Homo sapiens: one gene and its partners. The protein of the gene in region 7 purifies or fractionates together with the protein of the main gene of each other region. This does not show direct contact. Each region holds a gene or a part of one and is shown on either strand. Other genes may lie near its edges. The genes, in order: SEC62, RBM34, HERC5, RRP12, RBM28, SDAD1 and SLCO6A1.

Evidence for each region.
Region 1: the proteins of SLCO6A1 (region 7) and SEC62 purify together in Homo sapiens (affinity purification with mass spectrometry; one large-scale study listed by BioGRID and IntAct). This does not show direct contact.
Region 2: the proteins of SLCO6A1 (region 7) and RBM34 purify together in Homo sapiens (affinity purification with mass spectrometry; one large-scale study listed by BioGRID and IntAct). This does not show direct contact.
Region 3: the proteins of SLCO6A1 (region 7) and HERC5 purify together in Homo sapiens (affinity purification with mass spectrometry; one large-scale study listed by BioGRID and IntAct). This does not show direct contact.
Region 4: the proteins of SLCO6A1 (region 7) and RRP12 purify together in Homo sapiens (affinity purification with mass spectrometry; one large-scale study listed by BioGRID and IntAct). This does not show direct contact.
Region 5: the proteins of SLCO6A1 (region 7) and RBM28 purify together in Homo sapiens (affinity purification with mass spectrometry; one large-scale study listed by BioGRID and IntAct). This does not show direct contact.
Region 6: the proteins of SLCO6A1 (region 7) and SDAD1 purify together in Homo sapiens (affinity purification with mass spectrometry; one large-scale study listed by BioGRID and IntAct). This does not show direct contact.

Annotation. Positions count from the first base shown.
Region 1 is NC_000003.12:169,965,431-169,969,606, reverse strand, and holds the start of SEC62 (translocation protein SEC62), read right to left. Parts: upstream 2,801-4,176; 5' UTR 2,785-2,800; coding exon 2,749-2,784; exon of another isoform or gene 1,016-2,748; intron 321-1,015; exon of another isoform or gene 224-320; intron 1-223. UniProt on the Homo sapiens protein: Mediates post-translational transport of precursor polypeptides across endoplasmic reticulum (ER). Proposed to act as a targeting receptor for small presecretory proteins containing short and apolar signal peptides.
Region 2 is NC_000001.11:235,140,751-235,144,250, reverse strand, and holds part of RBM34 (RNA-binding protein 34), read left to right. Parts: intron 1-3,500.
Region 3 is NC_000004.12:88,502,119-88,504,390, forward strand, and holds part of HERC5 (E3 ISG15--protein ligase HERC5), read left to right. Parts: intron 1-2,113; coding exon 2,114-2,272.
Region 4 is NC_000010.11:97,366,841-97,370,340, reverse strand, and holds part of RRP12 (RRP12-like protein), read left to right. Parts: intron 1-66; coding exon 67-174; intron 175-758; coding exon 759-916; intron 917-3,208; coding exon 3,209-3,300; intron 3,301-3,431; coding exon 3,432-3,500.
Region 5 is NC_000007.14:128,341,109-128,345,380, forward strand, and holds the start of RBM28 (RNA-binding protein 28), read right to left. Parts: upstream 2,801-4,272; 5' UTR 2,686-2,800; coding exon 2,568-2,685; intron 1-2,567. UniProt on the Homo sapiens protein: Nucleolar component of the spliceosomal ribonucleoprotein complexes.
Region 6 is NC_000004.12:75,963,446-75,966,945, reverse strand, and holds part of SDAD1 (protein SDA1 homolog), read left to right. Parts: intron 1-1,123; coding exon 1,124-1,182; intron 1,183-2,734; coding exon 2,735-2,811; intron 2,812-3,500.
Region 7 is NC_000005.10:102,489,002-102,492,501, reverse strand, and holds part of SLCO6A1 (solute carrier organic anion transporter family member 6A1), read left to right. Parts: intron 1-3,500.

The DNA of each region.
Region 1 (4,176 bases), on a different chromosome or scaffold from region 7:
GTTTATCTGAAAAACGAGGGTGTTGGGTGAGATCAGTCAGCTGTAGGATCACCACTCTGCTTTCATGTTAAGACTGAATTTATGAAAAAGGCTTCCAAACAAACCCTACTAGATCCTTTTAAACTCTAAAATTTCTTGATACCAGGATTGTAAATCAACTTCTACTATGCAGCAGCACATTGTTAATCTATATGTAGTTACTGTATGAGTACATGTAGCTCACTTCTGGTTTTCAGTGACCAGTAATGAGTCCAAGAAGGAAATGTGACAACAGTCCTCTTGCTAGAAACTTCGATGGGACACGAGAATCTGAAATTATACTGAATTACAAAGAAAAAGCAAATTAGCTACTTTTTTTTTTAACCCTGAACTTATTTGTTTGTATCAAACATTTCTCCCCAATGTGCAAAGTATAATTAAAGATCACTGAATCTATTAACCATCTTTCTAAACATAAAACATCAAGCAACAAATGACAGAAACTCAGTTGGTATTACAGACCTTTTGCCTAAAAATTCTACAACAGGATCTTTTTTGTAAGTTAAACTCTGAACTTTTCATTACATTTGATCTTTTTATCACAAGTGATGTATTATAGTTTCTGATTATCTGGAATGATAAAACTGAGGTACTTTCTAGGCTAGTATATTTTCATAAGTGTGTTAGGCTGCATGAAAGTAGTACTCTAAGATCTCTCACAAACATTTTATACAGCCATGTAGAAAATTTCAAGGACAGAAAAATAAATGTCACTTAATTTTGCAGTATGCCCAGTAGATTTTAATAATCAATCCTCAAATAATAGAAAGTAAACAGCTATACTCTACATAACTCCCAACCTAATAGTTTACTGAATAGAGGGTTGTTAATCTTTCTTCAGCATATCAAAGAGTAGTTAACAAAAAATAAAATAACAATCCAATCTAAATCCTTCATCCTGGGTAAGGAGTAGAATAGAAGGGAGGGGCTGCGTGCCAAACACTTTTAATAACTTTTAATAAATAAGTTGACTCACCTATTATTTTCACAGCAATCTTAAAGTTTTTCTTTTTTCTTGCTTTTTTTTTTTTTGAGGTAAATATGTTTTCTTACCGATGCAGACAGGGAGGTAAAAATTAACTTGCTCAAAGTTACTCAGCCAATAATTGGTGGAGGTGGGGTACAAACAGGCAGTTTGGCTCAAGTTTTAGCTCTCTGCCACTGTCACATTACTCCACAGCCTCTGTTTAATATAAGATCACAACTAAATAAGAGCAGCTATTCAAAAGGTGAATTATATAGCCCTTACAACAATATTAAAGAGCAACTGGAATTGTAAAACAATGTGTATTGAAGGGCATAAAATTGTACTGTCAAGTGTAAATCTAAGGAGTTCTGTAAGTACAAATCTGACAGACAATTTCAATATACAATCTAATAAAATACTGTATACCCACGTCAGAGGAATAACACTAACTCTTGAAAGATTAAGAACAGTATAATTAGAAACTTCTACTGATCTTAAGACCTAGTCTTATCTGTCTGAACTCGAAATCTGCCTCTTTCTAATTCCCTTCTGCACCCTGTTCGGAACTACTTTATTTCTGCCAAATTCCAAAATTCCAAATTTACTGATCATGTGTGTCTTTTTCACAGCACTTAAAAAGTTTACAGAAGAATTTTAACTTGCATAGCTCAAAACATCTGTATTGTACGCCAATAAATCGATAAACTTAAAAAAAAAAAGAAGGGATAAAATGGAAGAAAGAAAAAATCATTCTAAGCAATGAAATAGTAAGGAACAGAAAGGCAATGATGAATGTAACAATTTATGATTATAGTAACAATTTACTACATGTGATCAATTTGAGGGCTTATGAAGGTTTCTCAGCACATCAGCTGATGAGACGACTAATAAATATCCTGAGTCCAAGATGTTCTACATAATTAATCCTCTTGGCAAAGAACAAGAACCAGGGAAAATCGCAAGGAAGAAATGCACAAATGACACGCATGTGGAATTAGGGGGAGATGTTATGTACGTTACTACGAGGATGACACACTGGCATGTGAAAGGTTTCTGGGCTCCACCAGCTCGTTGCAGCACCAACGAGGTTGTGGTTGTTTACACCACGTCGCCCGGAAAAAAGCCGGCAAGCTTCAAGTGGACTATTAAGTTAATAATATTGAAGGGAAAGAAGGGCAACGCAACTGAACATCTGGATGAGCAGATCCCTGCCTAGGCCCCGAGGCAGCTGACCAAGTCCAGATCATTCCCCCTTACGGTCTATGCGCACAAAGAACCAGCTGCTTTAGGTCAGTCCGCCGCCTCCTGCTACCCCTATTACCGTGGCCTTAATTTCAGGCCAGCTAAGGCCAGAGGATGGGGTGAAGGGAGGGGAGGAGCCCCGGGAAGGGTCAGCGTCTGCGCCCCAGGGGAGGCTGACCTTCCAGCTCAGGCCCGGGACAGCGCGACCACAGGAACTCCAGGCCCACAGCCGCGCCTCCGCAGCCGGATTCTGAGCGCGGCGCCTCCTTCCTTCCCCTGCTGCTCCACCACCACCTCCGTCTCTGTCTCCGCCGTCGCCAACACCGCCCCCCCTCAGGCCCCTCACAACGCGCAGCCTGCAGCCAGCTGCCTCGCGGCGGAACCCCACCCCACCCCACCCCACCTCGCCCTTGCTTTCGCTCGCCCTTTTAGGGGGCTTTCCCCGCCCCTTCCACTATCCAGCGCGCCGAAGCCCCCTGCCCAGAGCTCGGCTTTGCTACCTGGATCCGCTTCTTGTGTCTCCTGCGTTCCGCCATGTTGGCCGCTCCGCCCGGTTCCCTCTGACGTGGAGCGAGGAGGGGGCGGTGGAAACCTCGCGAGAACGCGCCCCGAGGCCCGTTATGTAATCCGCCGGCTGGCGCCCCTGGAATGGGGAGGTCGGCCGCCTGGCGGGGCCAGCGGTCCTTAGCGGTGCCTTCTCTCCCCTCTTCCCTCCGCTCCTGCTGTGCGGGAACTGGAGAATCGTTAGGACGTGGAGGAAGCAGAGAAGTGGATCAGAGAACAGGAGGGCTGGGAAGAGTCCTGGTTTCTCAATCCTGACTGAGCATCTGAATCACCTGAGAAGCTACTAAAATGCAGATTCCCCGACCCCATCCCCTTAGAGTCAGAGTCTGTGCATTTAGGGTGCGGCCTTTCTCAGAGGGATCGACTGAGACCTACTGAACCCTAGAAGTCTTTACCTGAGGCAGTTCCTGCAATGTACTGTATATTTCATGACATTCCATGTAAAAGATGACAAGACCGAGACCGTTGAGTGACAGAGATAAGAACTGACTTATCTAAGGCTCCACAGGTGGTAGATGGCAGAGCCGAGACCTGAGCCAATTATCTTTTCTCCTGCACTGTGCGGGGTAATACAGCTCGTTTAAAACAAGCTGGAGTCTCCATTCCGTTTTCCGCGTTGCTTCTCACAACTCACTGTTAGAATCCAGAAGTAAGAGAACCCGGGGAAGCGTAAGGAAGATGAATAGGACAAAGATTCTAAGAAGGTGGGAAGGAAGAAGGCTGCAGTCTATTTCAAGTCTGGTGAATTTCAATCACTGTAGCCTTTATTGTTATTTTAGAGCCACCTAGACCAAAAGAGAAGGAGCTCAAATTGCTGGTAAGTGCTTAGATAGAAATTCCCTTGACTGACTTTATAGAGATCTTTAAAGCGTTTTTAATTGTAGAAAATTGGGAAAATTCAGAATAGAAAGATGTTCTTTTTTTTTTGATGCTGAGTTTCGCTCTATATTGCCCAAGCTGGAGTGCAGTGGCGCAGTCTCGGCTCACTGCATCACCGAACTCCTCGTCTCAACTGATCTCCCTCCTCAGCCTCCTGAGTAGCTGGAACTACAGGCATGAGCCACCACACCTGGCTAATTTTTACTTTTTTTGTGTGGAGATGGAGTTTCCTTATGTTGCCCGGGCGGGTCTTGAACTCCTGGGCTCAAAACGATCCACCTGTCTCTGTCTCCTGAGTAACTGGAACTACAGGCGTGAGCCACTGTGACCGTTCAGTTTATTTTCTTATAGTATTCTGACTTTGTGTGTGTGTGTGCATGTGTGTTTGTATTTATATTTTTTCCTGTTTCCCAAATTGAGATCATATGCAATAAGGCAGCTGCTTTTTTCACTTAATGTTAGGTTGTAAGCGTTTATTATACCAT
Region 2 (3,500 bases), on a different chromosome or scaffold from region 7:
GGATATACTCTTGTCTAATTTGCTCAGCATAATGATTTTGAGGTTTGTTTTTTTGTGGGGGAGGGTTGGTGGAGGGGAACAGTGTCTTCTGCTGTTGCCCAGGCTGGAGTTCAGTGGCACGATAATGGCTCACGGCAGCCTTATCACCTGGGCTCAAGCAGTCCTTCTGCCTCAGCCTCCTAAATACCTGGGACTACAGGTGCTCGCCACCACACCCGGCTGATTTTTAAGTTTTTAGTAGAGCCAAGGTGTCACTAATGCCCAGACTGGTCCTGAACTCCTGAGCTCAAGTAGCCCTCCTGCCTTTGCCTCCCAAAGTGTTGCAATTACAGGCTTGAGCCACCGTGCCTGTCTGAGATTTGTTCTTATTATTGCAATGCATTGGTAATTAATTCGTTTTTATTGCTCAGTAGTATTCCCTTGTATGACAGTATTTGTTTATCCATTCACCTGTTTATTGTGTTGTGTTGTATTTATTGTGATGTATTGTACTGTATTGTACTGTATTGTATTGTGATGGAGTCTTGCTCTGTCGCTCAGGCTGGAGTGCAGTGGTACCATCTCGGCTAATTGCAACCTCTACCTCCCGGGTTCAAGTGATTTTCATGCCTCAGCCTCCCAAGCAGCTGGGATTACAGACACATACCACCATGCCCAGCTAATTTTTTCATACTTTTAGTAGAGATGGGGCTTTGCCATGTTGGCCAGGCTGGTCTAAAACTCCTGACCTCAGGTGATCCGCCCGCCTCAGACTGCCAAAGTGCTGGGATTATAGGCGTGAGCCATCGCACCCGGCCCCATTCACCAGTTTATGAACATTCAGGTTATTTCAGCCTTTGGCTATTATACATAAAACTGCTAAAAAAAATTTGGGTACGGATCATTTCTTTTGAGAAACTGCCTGGTCGGATTGCCAGATCTTACGGTATATTGTAACTTTCTAAGAAGCTGCAAAATTGTTTTCCAAAGTGTTTGTACCATTTTACATTCCTACCAGCTATCGATGAGAATGTCAGTTGCTTCACATCCTCACCAGCACTTGGCATTGTCATTTAATTTTAGACATTCTGAAGGTTTGTCAACCACAGTGACTAAAAATGTTAGGCATCTTATGTGCTTACTATTTGTATCTATTCTTTGGTGAAATGTTGGTACAAAAATTTTGCCCATTTTTTAGTGACTTTTAAATTATTTTTATATGGTTGTAAGGAGTTATTTATATATTCTAGATATAACACCTTTTCCTGCTATGTGTGTTTCAGATATTTTGCTCCAGTTTGTGGCTGGCTTTTTTAGAGGTGTCTTTTTTTTTTTTTTTTTTTTTGAGATGGATCCTTGCTCTGTCACCAGGCTGGAGTGCAGTGGTGCGATCCCAGCTCACTGCAACCTCCGCCTCCCGGGTTCAACTGATTCTCCTGCCTCAGCCTCTCAGGTAGCTGGGATTACAAGCGTGCGCCACCACACTCGGGTCATTTTTGTATTTTTAGTAGAGACGGGGTTTCACCATGTTGGCCAGGCTGGTTTCGAACTCCTGACCTCAGATGATCCACCCACCTCTGCCTCCCAAAGTGCTAGGGTTACAAGCATGAGCCACCACACACGCCCAGAGGTGTCTCTTAAAGATTGAAAGTTTTAAGTTTTATTGAAGATCTCATTTAGAGAGTGCTGTTGTTGGCCAGGCACAGTGGCTCACGCCTATAATCCATTACTTTGGGAGGTCAAGGTGGGCGGATCACCTGAGGTCAGGATTTTAAGACCAGCCTGGCCAACGTGGTGAAACCCCGTCTCTACTAAAAATACAAAAATTAGCCAGGAGTGGTGGCGTGCGCCTGTAATCCCAGCTATTCTGGAGGCTGAAGCAGGAGAATCACTTGAACATGGGAGTTAGAGGTTGCAGTGAGCCGAGATCATGCCATTGCACTCCAGCCTGGACTGCAAGAGAGAAACTCCGTCTCAAAATAAAAAAAGTGCTATTGCTTGTCAGTTGGCTTGGTAGTCTGGTGGGAGTGGGCGCAGCAGGGTCTCTGCTGTCTTGTCTTAGTGTTTCCGTGTCTCAGGAGTGCACCTGATCAGGGCTTTTTTCCCGGGGCAGCCAAGCTGTGCCAAATGCCTTGTACCTTTAGTGGGGATTATGCAGAGGATGTTTCCCACCTCTCCCCCGGTAGCTGGACTCCTCCCTTCCTCCGGCTGTAGGGGTCTTCTCTGTGCCCTGGAGTGACAGGGTTTGCTATCCCTCCCCTAGCAGCTTAGCCTTCTCCTCCATCAAGAGAATGTGTCCGGAATTGGTGGGTTCTTGGTCTCACTGACTTCAAGAATGAAGCCGCGGACCCTCGCGGTGAGTGTTACAGCTCTTAAGGTGGTGCGTCGGGAGTCTGTTCCTTCTGATGTTCGGATTTGTTCGGAGTTTCTTCCTTCTGGTGGGTTCGTGGTCTCACTGGCTCAGGAGTAAAGCTGCAGACCTTCGCAGTGAGTGTTACAGCTCTTAAGGCAGCGCGTCTGGAGTTGTTCGTTCCTCCCGGTGGCCTCGTGGTCTCGCTGGCTTCAGGAGTGAAGCTGCAGATCTTTGCGGTGAGTGTTACAGCTCATAAAAGCAGCGTGGACCCAAAGAGTGAGCAGTAGCAAGATTTATTGCAAAGAGTGAAAGGACAAAGCTTCCACAGTGTGGAAGGGGACCCGAGTGGCTTGCCACTGCTGGCTAGGGCAGCCTGCTTTTATTCTCTTATCTGGCCCCACCCACATCCTGCTGATTGGTAGAGCCGAGTGGTCTGTTTTGACAGGGTGCTGATTGGTGCATTTACAATCCCTGAGCTAGATACAAAGGTTCTCCATGTCCCCATCAGATTAGTTAGATACAGAGTATCGACACAAAGGTTCTCCAAGGCCCCACCAGAGCAGCTAGATACAGAGTATCGATTGGTGCACTCACAAACCCTGAGCTAAACACAGGGTGCTGATTGGTGTGTTTATAAACCTTGAGCTAGATACAGAGTGCCGATTGGTGTATTTACAACCCCTGAGCTAGACATAAAGGTTGTCCAAGGCCCCACCAGAGCAGCTAGATACAGAGTGTCGATTGGTGCACTCACAAACCTTGAGCTAAACACAGGGTGCCGATTGGTGTGTTTACAAACCTTGAGCTAGATACAGAGTGCCGATTGGTGTATTTACAATCCCTGAGCTAGACATAAAGGTTGTCCAAGGCCCCACCAGAGCAGCTAGATACTGAGTGTCGATTGGTGCACTCACAAACCTTGAGCTAAACACAGGGTGCCGATTGGTGTGTTTACAAACCTTGAGCTAGATACAGAGTGCTGATTGGTGTATTTACAATCCCTGAGCTAGACATAAAAGTTCTCCAAGGTCCCACCAGAGTAGCTAGATATAGAGTGTCGATTGGTGCATTCACAGACCCTGAGCTAGACACAGGGTGCTGATTGGTGTATTTACAATCCCTGAGCTAGACATAAAGGTTGTCCACATCCCCACCAGACTCGGGAGCC
Region 3 (2,272 bases), on a different chromosome or scaffold from region 7:
ACATAGTGTATTTCAAGTTTTGGACTATTATGAATAATGCTCTTGTGAACATTCTTGTACATGTGTTTTGTTTATGTGCAGGCATTTCTGTTGGTATGTAACTGGGAGAAGTGCTTGGTGCCTTGTGGTTGCCCCTTGCTCCATGCAGGCAGAATCAATGCTCCTACCTGAAATTCATTTGGATATTGATATGGATGATGCCATATGTAAGCCAGAGAGTATGAAAATGTTTAGTACATAATGGGGCTTTTTGGGGAGAGCTGCACAGGCATCCAAGCTGATCTGTTTGGCTTAAGTGAAGAGAGAGGCAGGTGGCTTTAGTTTTTATGGTGGTTCCGTGGGGCCAGGGTCAGGGTTCTCATGCAACCCAGAGCATGCGTGGGGAAATTTAAGCCACGCAGCCATCAGTGGGTGCCCAGGGAGTGAGCCTGTGTTGTGCAGATTTGGAGGCGAAAGGGGAAAAAGGAGGAGTGGGACTTGAAAGCTGTTAGTAAGCAAACATAAAAAATGGAGGCACACTTTCATCAGTAGGGTACGACAGTTCTAATTGCTCTATATCCACTCTAATAGTATTACTAGTCTTTTTTAAATTAGCCATTCTGGTGGGTATATAGTAGTATTCCATTGTGGTTTTAATTTGCATTTCTCTGATTACTAATGTTAAGCACTTTATATGCTTATTGGCTGTTTGGATATCCTCTTTTCAGAAATAATTATTCCTCATCTTTAGTCTATTTTTCTGTTGCTTTTTTTTTTCTTGTCAGTTTATGAGAGTTCTAGATGCAAGTCTTTTGTTGGTTATATGTACTGCAGATATCTTCTTACATACTGTGGCTTGTCTTTTCACTTTTTAAATGTGTCTTTTGATTAACCAAAATTTGTAATTGTAATGTAGTCTACTTTATCAATATTTTCCTTAATGCATAGTGTTTTTCTGTTTTCTATTTTATGAATACTTCCCTATCCTAGGGCTATGAATATATTCCCCTGTATTTTCTTCTAGAAGCTTATCATTTTATTTCTCACATTTAGATCTATGATCCACTTTAATTGATTTTTTAGTAAGATGCAAGGTATGGATCAGGTTTTATTTTTTCAATTTTTGAAACTGATTATACTGAACCTATAGATCAATTTTTTGAAAAAATTGACATCTTAAAATAATGAGGCTTTAATCCATGAATACAGAATCTCCATTTGTTTAAATCGTCTTTTGTCATTCTTGAAAAAATGTTAGGTAGTTTTCTATGTAGAGATCTTGTTGCAATATTCTAAATAGGTTTCTTGGATCATTTATTGTATTTGAATCTTCTCTGTCCTTAAAAATTTTTTTGTCTGCTTTTCTGTTAGTTACTAGGAGAGGTATATTAGCATCTATACTATACATGTGGATATGAGTGTTTCTTTAAGTTTCGTTATTACTAAGCACATAACAGATTTTTGAATTGTTTTACCTTCCTGGTATATGACTCGGTTGTCATTAGTAAATGTACTTTTCTATCCTTGTCTTGTTTGTCTGATTTTAGTATAGTTACACCACATTCATTTTGGTTGATGTTTGCATAGTGTATCTTTTTCCCTTCTTTGACTTTAATCTGTGTTTTCACATTTAAGTTATATATGTTATAAGCAGCATATGATGGAGTTGTTATAAAAATTACATTAGGGCCAGGTGCGGTGGCTAACGTCTGTAATCCCAGCACTTTGGGAGGCCGAGGCAGGCAAATCACAAGGTCAGGAGTTTGAGAGCAGCCTGGCCAACATGGTAAAACCCCATCTCTACTAAAAATACAAAAAAATTAGCTGGGCATGGTGGCAGGCACGTGTAATCCCAGCTACTTGGGAGGCTAAGGCAGGAGAATCTCTTGAACCCAGGAGGTGGAGGTTGCAATAAGCTAAGATCGCACCACTGCATTCCAGCCCAGGTGACAGTGCGAGACTCCGTCTCAAAAAAAAAAAAAAATTACATTAGATAATCTCTAGTAACTATGACAGTCCATGGCACATGGTAGGTACTCAATAACTGTTAGGTATTCTAGCTTTTATTTTTAGCCCCTCACCATTTTGTTCAGGATATTGCAGTAAGTGGAAATAACATTTTGTTTTATTAAAGGAGAGACTATGTTTCTAAGTATATCAATTACATTTTCAACGACTCTGTAAAGGCGGTTTATGAAGAATTTCGGAGAGGATTTTATAAAATGTGCGACGAAGACATTATCAAATTATTCCACCCCGAAGAACTGAAGGATGTGATTGTTGGAAATACAGA
Region 4 (3,500 bases), on a different chromosome or scaffold from region 7:
TCTGGCCCTCAGCCCCCCTACCTGGTGGGTCCTTCCTGCTTGACCCACGTTGGTCTCTGTCCCCAGAGGCCCTGCAGTGCTACCTCGTCCTGATCTACCCTGGCCTGGTGGGCGCGGTGACCATGGTCAGCTGCAGCATCCTGGCCCTGACCCACCTCCTTTTCGAGTTTAAAGGTAAATGCTTATTTCCTAGAAGGCCTGAGAAGCCCTCAGATTAGGAAGATGCCCAAAAGGTCAGGATAAAGTGGCTCCTGGAACTGGGAAAAGGTGCCTGGAGGAAGTAAGAAAAGCCACACCCAGCCCAGTTTGCCTCCCTGTCTCCCTTCCTGCGGGTCGCTGCCTCCCGCCCTTGCGGCTATGCCAAGGCACCTTCCTCAGGTCTGTCCCCACGTGTGACTGTGCAGTCCAGTGGCCCTGCATCCCATTGTCAGAGTGGTTAGGAGGTGGTTAGGGCTGATGCCTGGATTTTAGTCCTAGTCCTGCCTCTTGGCAACCACATGAGACCTAGAACAGCTTGATTAGCCTCTTAGCACCTCAGTTTCTTATCTCTAAAATGGAAGCAAGAAATAGCACCCACCTCAGGGTGACGAAAGGACCCAAGACCACTCCATGGAGCGTGATTGGAACCATCCCGGGCATACGGAAAGGCTCTCAATGTCAGCTTTTACTGACACTTGAGTGGCTGTTTTCCAGTGGGGAAGGTTTGGGTCTGAGTGGGGTCCTGGGTGTCTTAGACAGTGACCCCCTCACTGCCACAGGTCTGATGGGGACCAGTACAGTGGAGCAGCTGCTGGAGAATGTGTGCCTGCTTCTGGCCTCCCGCACCCGTGACGTGGTCAAGTCTGCACTGGGCTTCATCAAGGTGGCAGTGACTGTCATGGACGTGGCGCACCTGGCCAAACATGTGCAGCTGGTGGTGAGTGTCCCCGTTCCCCTTAGCAGGTAGCAGGGTGGCCTCTGAGCTGTTGGCATGGACCTGGCAAGCTTCGAGGCCAGCAAGTTTCAAACTATTTTTTTTGTAGCCAGAGGTCATTAAGGAGCCCTAAAAGGGACCATAGGGGAATGCCTGTCAGGTGGAGGCGAGGAGGGGGCACACTGCCCAGGTGGCTTTCTTCACCCCAGAGCCCTACATGGAAAGCAACAGGGGCTCTTCAGGGCAAAGGCCCATGGGCAGGGCCACTCCTCATTTTACAGATGGAGAAACTGGGCCAGAGATTTTCCAGATCATGGGACTCAGACGCTGGGCTCTCCCTCCACAGGACCCCCTCATCTTGCCTTTTTTTTTTTCCCATCTTGCATTTTGACCTTGCTGGTTAGAGGCCATTCCTTTGGGTCCCCTGCTGGGCTGCAGAAGGATCTGAAGAGCCCCTTGGTATAGGGTCCCTGGCCCTCTCCTGCCCAAGAGAAGCCTTGCCCAGGCTGGCGTAGGCTTCCAGCCAAGCTGTGCACTGTACCTACTGCCTCAGTTTCCCATGTGTGACTGGCTTGAGTCACATCAGACCTCTGGGTCCCTCTTGCATATTTTCTTTGGGTCTGGCCTTGGGTTCAAGATAGGAAGGGACAGATGAGAATCAGCATGCCCTCCCGCTGCCCTCGGAGCCTGCAGCCTACTAGGGACCAAAGGTGGGGAGAACAGCTAGAGCAGTGATCCATCATGGAGTTATTCGAATTTATACAAGCCCTGGCCGGCTGCAGTGGCTCACACCTGTAACCCCACCACTTTGGGAGGCCAAGGCAGGCAGATCACTTGAGTTCAGGAGTTTGAGACCAGCCTGGCCAACATGGTGAAACCCCATCTCTACTAAAAATACAAAAATTAGCTGGGCGAGGTGGCAGGTGCCTGCAATCCCAGCTACTCGGGAGGCTGAGGCAGGAGAATCACTTGAACCTGGGAGGCGGATGTTGCAGTGAGCCAAGATTGCACCACTACACTCCAGCCTGGGTAACAGAGCAAGACTCTGTCTCAAAAAAAAGGGATTTATAGAAGCCCTTCCAAGAGTGGTTGGGGAGGCCAGGAGCGGTGGCTCACACCTATATTCCTAGCACTTTGGGATGCCAAGGTGGGTGGATCACTTGAGGTCAGGAATTCGAGACCAGCCTGGCCAACATGGTGAAGCCCCATCTCTACTAAAAAATACAAAAATTAGCCAGGCATGGTGGTGCGCGCCTGTAGTCCCAGCTGTTCATGTGGCTGAGGTGTGAGAATTGCTTGAACCTGGGAGGCGGAGGTTGCAGTGATCCGAGACCATGCCATTGCACTCCAGCCAGGGTGACAGAGCAAGACTCTGTCTCAAAAAAAAAAAAAAAAAAGCCAGGCACAGTGGCTCACACCTGTAATCCCAGTACTTTGGGAGGCCAAGGTGGGCGGATCGCCTGAGGTTGGGAGTTCAAGACCAGCCTGGCCAGTATGGTAAAACCCTGTCTGTACTAAAAATACAAAAATTAGCCAGGCGTGATAGCAGGCACCTGTAATCCCAGCTATTCAGGAAGCTGAGGCAGGAGAATTGCTTGAACCCAGGAGGTGGAGGTTGCAGTGAGCTGAGATCGTGCCATTGCACTCCAGCCTGGGCAACAGAGCGAGACTCCATCTCAAAAAAAAGGAGTAGACGTGGACCCTATCCCCTAGCCGGTTTGGGAGTCACTGGAGATAAGAAGATCTGCCACCTGCACATGTAACCCAAACTGGGCCAGATGAAGGCTTAAGAGGAATCCAGCCAGAGCAGAATGCAGTGAGATGGAAGGGACATAGGGGACCAAGAGAAATCTTGGGGTGCTAGGGGCAAAGCGGGAGCCGCAGCATTAGATGAGTCTGGGCTGAACTCCCACCTCTATGGCCATTTAGCAAACACTTTATCCTCTGTGCCGCCGTGTCCTCTTCTATAAATAGGGGGTGATAGCATGTATCTCAGGGGTAGTCCAAGGATTCAAGGAGAGGATATATGTCAAGTACCAAGTGCTGTTGAGAAGACTAAAGCTCTCATCCTGCGAGGGTGCTCAGGCCTGTGTCCTGAAGGAGGGTGCAGGGGAAAGATGGGGCCTGCCCACCCGAGGGAAGCATGACTGGGCCAGGGTGTGGGCCAGGAGCAGGGCCGCGCTAACCCTCCCCTCAGCTGGGCTTGATCATGCTGCGTCCCTGGGCTGGACAGCAGTAAAGGGGGCGCAGCATGGAAGGCTCGCCTCCCTGAAAGCCTGGTGCTCTGTCCGGCAGATGGAAGCCATTGGGAAGCTTTCAGATGACATGCGGCGGCACTTCCGCATGAAGCTTCGGAACCTGTTCACCAAGTTCATCCGCAAGTTTGGGTCTGTGCACTGAGCAGGGGCGGGGGTAGGGCAAGCGAGGGGCCGAGGATTTCCAGTCCTACCAGGGACACTACATCTGGGTCGTGCTGTCTGGCCAGTGCCTCTCACCAGCCCTTCCTTGCCACCTCCAGATTTGAGCTGGTGAAAAGGCTGTTGCCCGAGGAGTACCACAGAGTCCTGGTCAACATCCGGAAAGCTGA
Region 5 (4,272 bases), on a different chromosome or scaffold from region 7:
TGCCTTTACCTGAAAAGGACACATAGTTCATATGCTCTGCTTCTCTTTCCACTGCATTTGAATCTCCTTCAGGGTATAAGCCCTTTGACACAGGACACTGATCTACATAAACTGGTTAAAGCAACATAACATCAATTTTTCTCTTCTCTTGAACTCCTTATCATAAAAGCTGCCCACTCACCTTTCAGAAAATGAGCACAAGAAAATTCATAGCCCTTCATGATCAGTACAACCAAAAGTAAAGCAGCTGAAATGTAAAAGAGTTTGACACCCAAATGAAAGGACATACAGTAAATACCACACATTTTACATGTCTGCATAAAGCATGCTCACATACATTTAGAGTCCCTGACAACCCTGTGAAATTATTCCCATCTTAAAGAGGTGAAGTGACATGCACTGCTATTGAGGAAGACTTCATTCCACATACCCTCCCTCCCGTTTCACTGAGTGCAGCACTCTTTCCAGTACATATCAGCTGTCTGGATAGGAAAGTGCATAGTTTTTTAAAAGGAAGTAAGAGATTTTTAAGGATTTAGACCAAGTACACAAGGTGTAAGGTAAGATTGCATGTAGCCTATATTCTGAGGACTCAAAGGAGAACTCCCATTCAATGGCCTATTCTTCCCTGGAATACAACCACCTGGGTACGGAATGCTACTTACACTGGAACCCAGTACATACATATATTCTTTATTTAAAACTTAAAAGTTTTACAAATACTTATCCTTTACCATATATGGACGTACTCCTATACTATTTAATTTTTTAAGAACTCTAGGCCAGGCGTGGTGGCACATGCCTGTAATCCCAGTGCTTTGGGAGGCCAAGGCAGGAGGATCATTTGAAACCAGCCTGGACAACGTAGTGAGACCCTGTCTCTACAAAAAATATTCAAAAATTGGCCAGGCATGGTGAAGCACGTCTGTAGTCATAGCTACTTGGGAGGCTGAAGTAGGAGGATTGCTTGAGCCCAGGAGTTTAAGGTTACATTGAGCTGTGATCGCACCACTGCACTCCAACTGTCAACAGGGTTGACAGAGCAAGACCCTGTTTCTAAAACACAACAAAACAAACTCTAGTCATGACCCACTCAAGACCCACTAATAGGTAATAATCTGCAGTTTAATAAACATTACTGTACAGGACTTTCGGTCCCTATTTTAAGTACATAAGCTTTTGTCCTATTCTCCAACAGTCTATTGGCAACACACCAGCCAGAGAGAGAATCTTTCAAAACGAATGCCAGATCACACTTACTGCTCTCTGCTTAAAATCAGTGGCTTCCTATCTCTGAGTAAAAGCCAAAGTCCTTGCAATGGTCTATAACATCCTACATGAGGCGGGCGGATCACCTGAGGTCTCGAGTTCCAGACAACCCTGGCCAACATAGCGAAACCCCGTCTCTACTAAAAATACAAAAATTAGCCAGGTGTAGTGACACTCGCCTGTAATCCCAGCTACTTGGGAGGCTGAGGCAGGAGAATGGGTTGAACCAGGAGGCAGAGGTTGCAGTGAGCGGAGATCGTGGCACTGCACTCCCGCCTGGGCGACAGAGCAAGACGCAGTCTTTAAAAAAAAAAAAAAATCTTACATGATCTGCTACTCTAGATCTCATCTCCTAATTCTCTTCCCTTTACTCACTTCAATCCAGTCACCCTGTCCTCCTTACTACTCCTCCAATATACCAAAAACACCTCTGTTTCAGTACCTTTGAGCTTGCTGTTTTCTCTTCCTGAATTGTTCTTCCTCCGGAGAGGCATGTGTTCACTCTCTCACCTCAGTCCGTCCTTCTCTGGCCACCCTATCTATATTGCCACTCTTCACCCCCTCTCCCCACTATACACATGCACATAGACTTCCTAACCCCTTTCCCTGGCTTATTTTTCTCCTTAGCATTTGACATCATTTTCACGGTTGGCTTGTTTATTGGCTCGTTTATTGGCTCTCTTCCCCACCTTGAAGACATAAAATCAAAGATTTTTTTGGTTTGGTGTTGTGCACTGCTGCATCCCCAGGACCTACAACACTTCCTGGCACACAGTAGGTATTAAGTATTTGCTGAATAAATGAATGAACAAGTGGATAGCATCCTGGCTAAGATGTCCAGGTCTGAGGATCAAATCGGGGGTCCACTACTTAACAGCCGTACAAACTTAAAGTTACTAAATTCCCCTAAATCCCGGATTCCTGTCTGTAAAATGACATTAAGACTCTCCATCCGGTAAGATTGCTGAGAAAATTAAATGAGATAACCTGTATCAAACTGATCACTGTACCTGCCAATCAGGTGACTCTCAATAAGTCTTACTGATGCTCTAGTTAACTATTTTCATTTTTAGCGCGCATAATCAACAGAAAGCGCTATAGAAACGTAAGGGAATGCTTTGCCCTTCATAAACTGACTCCTATGAACGCATCTAAAGCAGAATCAGTTTGGAAAAGAAACTCAGTTCCCTGTCCCTTCTCTTCGGGGAGGGTAAAGAATGATACGGCTCCCTGAAGTTTGGGAAGGTGCCCTCGATCGCAGGAAACCCCAGCCCTATCCTCGACCGCCCCGCCCCTACCTTTTTCAGTCACCACGAAGCACTGCTTCACCGGCCCCACCTGACTGAACAGTTCCTCCAGCTGCTCACTGCGGGCCGAGGGCGGGAGGCGGCCCACAAATAAGGTCAGGCCGGCCATGAGACCGGGAAACCCAAAGCGCGTGAGGACGCGAGCAAACTAGGCCGGCGCACGCGAGCCGAAACGCTGGCTTTGGTAGGACAACCAAGCTCACACGCCGAGAGATTCCGGAAGTGCTCGTTGCCCAAAAGAGACCGGAGGAAAACATGGTCGGGAGGGGGATAAAAGGTTCCGGAATGAAAAAATAATGGCGCCCCGGGGCGTAGCTTCTGGAGCGGGGCTCCGCCCCCTGCCCTAGCATCGCCCTCGCCACTTTTGTGTAAACTTGGCATCAATAATTTCTACCCTAGTGTTACAGCTTTTTTAGAATTTGCCTAGCAGGCTTTCTGGTTTTTGCCGGAAGGCCTCCAAAAAGTAATTTTTTTTCTTAATATACAAAATAAAAATAAATAATTTCTACCCTGTTTAAAAATCTCACCTCCAGATCCTCCCCAAAGTTAGCAGGACAGGCAGAAGAAGTCGTTTTTGCCCCGGGCGTAACTCAGGATCTGATATACTGTGGGTGTTTGATATTTTCTGAAGTGCCTCCACAAATTCCCAGATTACGTGCATAAAACACAACCGGAACACTAACACGTAGACATAGATATATCATATACATCATTCGGACGATTCTCATTTTCGGAGAACACCAGCTGTCTGTCACCTCAGCCTCACAAACAAATTGTAGCTACTAAAATACACATAGACACAGATAGTACACAATTATTATTTCAATAAATATATACTGAGCTCTAACTATGAGCCAAGCATTAGGGATAAAACTGGTGAGCAAAGAAATGACAGGGTCCCTGCCCTCATAGAGATTACAGTCTAATGGTGGAAACAGATTTTTTTTTTTGACAGGGCCTCACTTTATCAACCAGGCCGGAGTGCACTGGCACGATCTCGGCTTACTGCAGCCTCGACCTCCCAGGTTCAAGCAGTCCTCCTGCCTCAGCCTCCTGAGTAGCTGGAACTACAGGTGCACCACCACACCCGGCTAATTTTTGTATTTTTTGCAGAGACAGGGTTTCACCATGTTGCCCAGGCTGGTCTCAAACTCCTGAGCTCAATTAGCCCCCCTTAGCCTCCTAAAGTGCTAGGATTATAGGTGTGAACCACCACACCTGGCTGGGAAGACTATTAGTCCAAAAATTCTTACAAATAAATCACAGCACACACACTGCAGGACCACATCAAACACACTCAAAGCAAACATAACATCCAACTTATACACAGAGACCTAGAACCCATGTCCTCCTAGAAACAGAAGATCTTTGTCTCAAGTCAGCTCATCAGACAGACCCAAAGCTGAGAGCTCTTAATTGGCTAGGAAATCTGGGTGCTCCTGGTTCTGGAACACAGAGAGTGTTTGCCATGCCACTGGGCTCAGGACCTGAATAGGTGCAAGAGAGCTACACCTTGCAGAACAACTAGCTCAAAAAAAAGTACCCAAGGCCATTTTTTAAATAATTTTTTTTTTAGCAGACTCTTGCTCTGTCACCCAACTTGGGGTGCAGTGGCACCATCATGGCTCACTGCAGCCTTGATCTCCTGGGCTCAAGCAATACTGCCACCTCAGCCTCCTGAGAAGCTAGGACCACA
Region 6 (3,500 bases), on a different chromosome or scaffold from region 7:
AAAATACAAAAATTAGCCGGATGTGGTGTCGGGCACCTGTAATCCCAGCTACTCAGGAGGCTGAGACAGAATCGCTTGAACCCAGGAGGCGAAGGTTGCTGTGAGCCGAGATTGTGCCCTTGCACTCCAGCCTGGGTGACAGAGCAAAACTCTGTCTCAAAAAGAAAAGAAAAGAAAACAACAACAACAAATTGGTTTCTCAAAGCAAGTCTTCTTGTAATACTGTAAATACTCATGGAAAATTCTTTTTTAAAAAATTGACGTTTTATTGCATCTTCATAATAGATATTAAGATTTGATCTCACTGCTCACATTGACCTTGCATGCATTCTCAATGAAAAACAACACAAAAGCAGGAAAGAAGAGATGATTGTTCTTGTCTTTGAACCTGAACCAAAGTAGGAAGGAAACTAACATTTATTCAGTATCTAACATGGACCAAGCACTGTGCTAAGTGCCTTACATACGTCATTTTGTCTAATCCTCACATTAATCTTGTGAGGTATACAAAGAGAGGGAAAAAAAAGACTAGAGTCACTCAGCAAATAAATGGAAAATCAGGATTCACCTCACTTCTTTTGCCAGTGGCCTTGTTTGTTACCTATGCTATGCTGCCCCTTTGAAAAGAGACAGTGTGTGTGTGTGTGTGTGTGTGTGTGTGTGTGTGTGTGTGTGTGTATGCATTCATTCAGCAAGTATTTATTTAATGATTTTTATGCCAGGCACTGCATTAAGACAGTACGAATTCCACAGTAAACGTAAAACAAGGTCCTTACCCTCATGGCTTACATCTGGAGGCAGATGTAGATGTGCTATATATAATATGTCCAGGTAAAGATAAGTGTTTTGAAGGAAAAGGAAGCAGGATAAGGACAATAGGGAGTGTCGGGACGGGTTCTGTTTTACATTGTGTGGTCAGGAGAGACTTTTTGATAAGGCAGCTATTGAGTAGGGACCTGAAGAAAGTGAGGGGGTAAGCCAAGCAGATATCTGGGGATTGAGTGTTCCAGGTGGAATACGCAGCAATACCATTTAGACCAGAATGAGCTTGCCATGTTTGCTGTGGTCCTCAGAGGCAGGGTGATACACTGACCATGACCTTTCTGTTCTCTTATGTTTTCAGAAGTAACCAAGATCCTTCTGTTTGCTGCACAAGCATCTCATCACCTAGTACCCCCAGAGGTGAGAACCTGTAACCTGACTTCTGGACCTAGGGCATGGATGACAGTGTTACTGTTAGGTACTTCAGGGTCTATCGGGGGAACCTGCCCCCGATAATTCAACGTGGGTTTTTTTCTATTTCTTGTCAGATGGTCTGAGAAATGAAGGGAAAGAGTACAAAAGAGAGAAATTTTAAAGCTGGGCGTCCAGGGGAGACATCACATGTCGGCAGGTTCTGTGATGCCCCACAAGCTCCAAACCAGCAAGGTTTTATTAGTGATTTTCGAAAGGGGAGGGAGTGTAAGAATAGAGTGTGGGTCACAGAGATCACATGCTTCACAAGGTAATAAAATATTACAAGGCAAATGGAGGCAGGACGAGATCACAGGACCAGGGCGAAATTAAAATTGCTAATGAAGTTTCGGGCACGCATTGTCATTGATAACATCTTATCAGGAGACAGGGTTTGAGAGCAGACAGCCAGTCTGACCAAAATTTATTAGGCGGGAATTTCCTCATCCTAATAAGCCTGGGAGTGCCACGGGAGACCGGGGCTTATTTCATCCCTTATCTACAACCTTAAAAGACAGATGTCCCTAGAGCGGCCATTTCAGAGACCTACCTCTAGGAACACATTCTCTTTCTCAGGGCTGTTCCTTGCTTAGAAAAAGAATTCAGCAATATTTCTCCTATTTGCTTTTGAAAGAAGAGAAATATGGCTCTGTTCTGCCTGGCTCTCAGGCAGCCAGACCTAATGGTTATCTCCCTTGTTCCCTGAACATCGCTGTTACCCTGTTCTTTTTTCAAGATTTCATATTGTTTAAACAATTTGTGCAGTTAACACAATCATCACAGGGTCCTGAGGCTACATACATCCTCAGTTTATGAAGATGACGGGATTAAGAGATTAAAGACAGGCATAGGAAATCACAAGAGTATTGATTGGGGAAATGATACATGTCTATGAAATCTTCACAATTTATGTTCAGAGATTGCAGCAAAGACAGGCATAAGAAATTATTAATTTTGGGAACTAATAAATGTCCATGAAATCTTCACAATTTATGTTCTTCTGCCATGGCTTCAGCTGGTTCCTCCATTCGGGGTCTCTGACTTCCCACAACAAGGGTCATTTTTCCCACAAGGGTTACTGTCCCCCCTTCCCTCACCGTTTTCTTCTTTTAATAGATAGAAGAGACACTAACTCTTAAGGGGATCTACACAGAAGTTCAGTTGTACGTCTCATAAAAAGAAGTTTCTTTCAGACAAGTTGTTTAGAATTCTGATTTTCTTTAATAAGCAAATTTTGTATAACTAGGGGAGGTCAAGAATATTAGTAAATTTATAGAGTAATTCCTTTCTTTGATTTAGTCTGAGGATAGCCAAGAAAAACACTGAATTCCTAAGTGGAGTGTTTTCTTCTGTCTTCCTTAATCTTGATTACTTCCAATTCCTAAACTGAAGGTGGAAGGCTGGGTTTTCCACTATGAATAATCTATTGTCCTTTCATTCTTATGTGTTTGTGTATGCAGACATTTAATCAGCACCCATCTCTTTTTTGTTTCCAATTCAGATTATTCAATCATTGCTTATGACTGTGGCAAACAATTTTGTTACCGACAAGAACTCTGGAGAAGTCATGACAGTAGGGTATGTAGAATCTGGTTGGAGGCAGAAGATACATTGTTTAATGGACTAGATTTGCTATAAGTTACCAAGATGTAAGATTGTAGCTGGTAGTATCACCTCTATAAAATTGGTTTAAAATATATTTCAGTCTTTTTGGGAGGCTTGATAATTTTTTTATTGGTCAGAATTTTGAGAAGGGAGCCAGAGAAAAGATACTTTTCCTTCTAATTAGCATTTTTGTTTTTTAGCAGTTTTACTTTTACAGATGAATAATTGATTAGCAAACTAAGTGCTTTTCTTCTGATCTCCCACCGTAAACTTTGTACTGCTAATAAAATAAATATTTGGCTCCTAGTTCTGGAGCTGGGAAGTCCAAGGGCATGGCATTGGTGTCTGTCTGGCACCTGGTGGGGGCCTCGTTGCTGCATCATTGGCAGAAGGCACAAGGGGAAGAGAGCACAAGAGCCAACAGAGGGCCAAACTCACTTTTTTATAACTCACTGGTGATAAGGGACCTTCTCCCAAGATAACAACATTAGGCCTAATCACTTCTTAAGAGTCTCTCCTCTTTGAACTACAAACCACTGCTCAACAAAATAAAAGAGGATACCAACAAATGGAAGAACATTCCATGCTCATGGATAGGAAGAATCAATATCATGAAAATGGCCATACTGCCCAAGGTAATTTATAGATTCAATGCCATCCCC
Region 7 (3,500 bases):
ACCTCAGTTGGAAATGCAGAAATCACCTGTCTTCTATGTTGCTCACGCTGGGAACTGTAGACTGGAGCTGTTCCTATTCGGCCATCTTGGAAGTGCACCCATTGAGTATTTTCTTGACCCTATCCAGTCTACTGAGGAGGTCATCAAAGACATTTTTTTTCATTTCTGCTGCAGTGTTTCTGATTTCTCACATTTTATTTTGATTCTTTCTTAGAGTTTCCATCTCTCTCCTTACATTACTTATCTGTTGTTGCATATTGTCCATTCTTTCCAATAGAGTCCTGATATGGTTTGGATTTGTGTCCCTGCCCAAATCTTATGTTGACTTGTCATCCCCAATGTTGGAGGAGGGTCCTGGTGGGAAGTGATTGGATCACGGGGGCAGACTTCCCCCTTGCTGTTTTGTGATAGTGAGTTCTCAAGAGATCTGGTTGTTTAAAAGTGTACAGCACTTCCCCTTCACTCTCTTCCTCCTTCTCTGGCCATGTAAGATGTGACTGCTTTCGCTTCACTTTCCACAATGATTGTAAGCTTCCTGAGGCCTCCCTGAGGCCTCCCCAGCCATGCTTTCTGTACAGCCTGCAGAACTGTTGAGAGGTGACAGCGTGCTGGCAGTCCTCACAGCCCTCGCTCGCTCTCTGCACCTCCTCCGCCTTGGCGCCCACTCTGGCCATGCTTGAGGAGCCCTCCAGCCTGCCGCAGCTCCGTGGGAGCCCCTTTCTGGGCTGGCCAAGGCCGGAGCCGGCTCCCTCAGCTTGCAAGAAGGTGTGGAGGGAGAGGCACGGGCGGGAACCGGGGCTGCGCACCGCGCTTGCGGGCCAGCACGAGTTCTGGGTGGGCGTGAGCTCAGTGGGCCCTGAACTCGGAGCCACCGGGCCACCCGCAGGCCCCAGGCAGTGAGGGGCTTAGCACCTGGGCCAGCAGCTGTTGTGTTCAATTTCTCGCGGGGCCTTAGCTGCCTCCCTGTGGGGCAGCGCTCGGGACCTGCAGCCTGCCATGCCTGAGCCTCCCCCACCTCCGTGGGCTCATGTGTGGCCCAAGCCTCCCCAACGAGTGCCGCCCCCTGCTCCACGGTGCCCAGTCCCATCGACCACCCAAGGGCTGAGGAGTGCGGGTGCACCGTGCGGAACTGGCAGGCAGCTCCACCTGCGGCCCCGGTAGGGGATCCACTGGGTGAAGCCATCTGGGCTCCTGAGTCTGGTGGGAACTTGGAGAACCTTTATGTCTAGCTGAGGGATTGTAAATACACCAATCAGCACTCTGTATCTAGCTCAAGATTTGTAAACATACCAATCAGCACCCTGGGTCTAGCTCAGGGTTTGTGAATGCACCAATGGACACTCTGTATTTAGCTACTCTACTCTTGTGGGGACTTGGAGAACCTTTGTGTGGACACTGTGTATCTAGCTAATCTAGTGGGGACATGGAGAACCTTTGTGTCTAGCTCAGGGATTGTAAACGCACCAATCAGCGCCCTGCCAAAACAGACCACTCGGCTCTCTGTAAAATGGAGCAGTCAGCAGGATGTGGGTGAGGCCAGATAAGATAATAAAAGCAGGCTACCGGAGCCAGCTGTGGCAACCCCCTGAGTCCGCTTCCACACTGTGGAAGCTTTGTTCTTTCGCTCTCTGCAGTAAATCCTACTGCTGCTCACTCTTTGGGTCCACACTGCCTTTATGAGCGGTAACACTCACCGCGAAGGTCTGCAGCTTCACTCCTGAAGCCAGCGAGACCACGAACCCACCAGGAGGAACGAACAACTCCAGATGTGCCACCTGAAGAGCTGTAACACTCACCATGAAGGTCTGCAGCTTTGCTCCTGAGCCAGGGAGACCACGAACCCACCAGAAGGAAGAAACTCGGAACACACCCGAACATCAGAACAAACAAACTCCAGACATGCCGCCTTTAAGAACTGTAACACTCACCGTGAGGGTCCGCGGTTTCATTCTTGTAGTCAGTGAGACCAAGAACCCACCAATTCCAGACACACTGTGAGTCAATTAAACCTCCTTTCCTTATGAATTATCCAGTCTCAAGTAGTTCTTTATAGCAATGTGAAAATGGACTAATACATGTCTTTAGCATATTGATCATAGTTATTTTATTTTTTAATTGACATATAATAATTGTACATACATATGGGATAAAATGTAGTATTTCAATTTATGTTTATATTGTGTAATGATCAAATCAGTATAATTAGCAATCCTTTGCCTCATATATTTATCATTCCTTTGTGGTGAGAACATTCAAAATGCTCTCTTATAGCTATTTTGAAGTATACAGTACATTATTGTTAATAGGGTGACTCTAGTCACCCTACTGTGCAACAGAGCACCAGAATTGATATCTCCTATCTAACTGTAACTTAGTACTCATTGACCAACCTCTGTGCATCCCTCCTTCCACCCTCTCCAGCCTCTAGTAACCATTATTCTACTCTTTACTTCTGTAAGATCAACCTTTTTAGATTATACATATGAGTGAGAACATGCAGTACTTGTCTTTCCATGTCTGGCTTATTTCACTTAACATGATGTTCTTTATCCATGCTGTAGTAAAAAACAGGATTTTATTCTTTTTTATGGATGAACAATATTCCATTATGTATATATACCACATTTTCTTCATCCATTCATCTGTCAATGGACACTTAGGTTGGTCCATATTTTAACTATTATGAATATTGCTTCAATAAACATGGGGATGCAAATATTTCTTTGACATACTGATTTTATTTCATTTGAATATATATCCAGTAGCAGAATTGCCGGATCATTTGGTAGTTCTATTTTTAGTTTTGAGGAACCTCCATACTGTTTTTATAATGGTTACTCTTACATAAATTCCCACCAACAGTGTATAAAGGCTTCCTTTTCTATACATCCTTGCTAATACATATCTTCTGTCTTTTTGATAACAGCCATTGTAACTGGATATCTTATGATTTTGATTTGCATTCCCCTGATGATTAGTGATGTTGAGCATTAAAAAAAATAGATCTGATGATCATTTTTATGTCTTCTTTTGAGAAATGCCTATTCAGGGCTTTTGCCCATTTTTAAATTGGATTATTTGTTTGTTTGTTTGTTTTGCTATTGAATTGTTTGAGTTCCTTAAATATTCTGGGTAATAATTTAAATTTCTGGAAATCCCCCTTTTCCATATGATTCTGTTTTAGAGTTTTCCACTGAGGGTAACGTATGCGATGTTTGGAAGTTTGAAGAGAAGGAGAGGAGAGTCATCCTTCTCCAGAGATGTTTGCAAGCAAATCCTTGCAGGTCTGAGGTTGCGTGTATCCTGCTGAGCATTTAAAAACCACCCACTTTGCTCCTGCAGGCTGATGCAGCTCTTGGGAACTATTGCAGAAGCTCTTGAGCATTGCTCAATTTCTTGATGACTTTTTAAAGAAAATAAAGGGGAGAAATAGCAGTGGGGCATACCCCTAACCAAAGGGACTCTAACTTTTATGCTTCTATGCTTTCTATGCTTCTGTC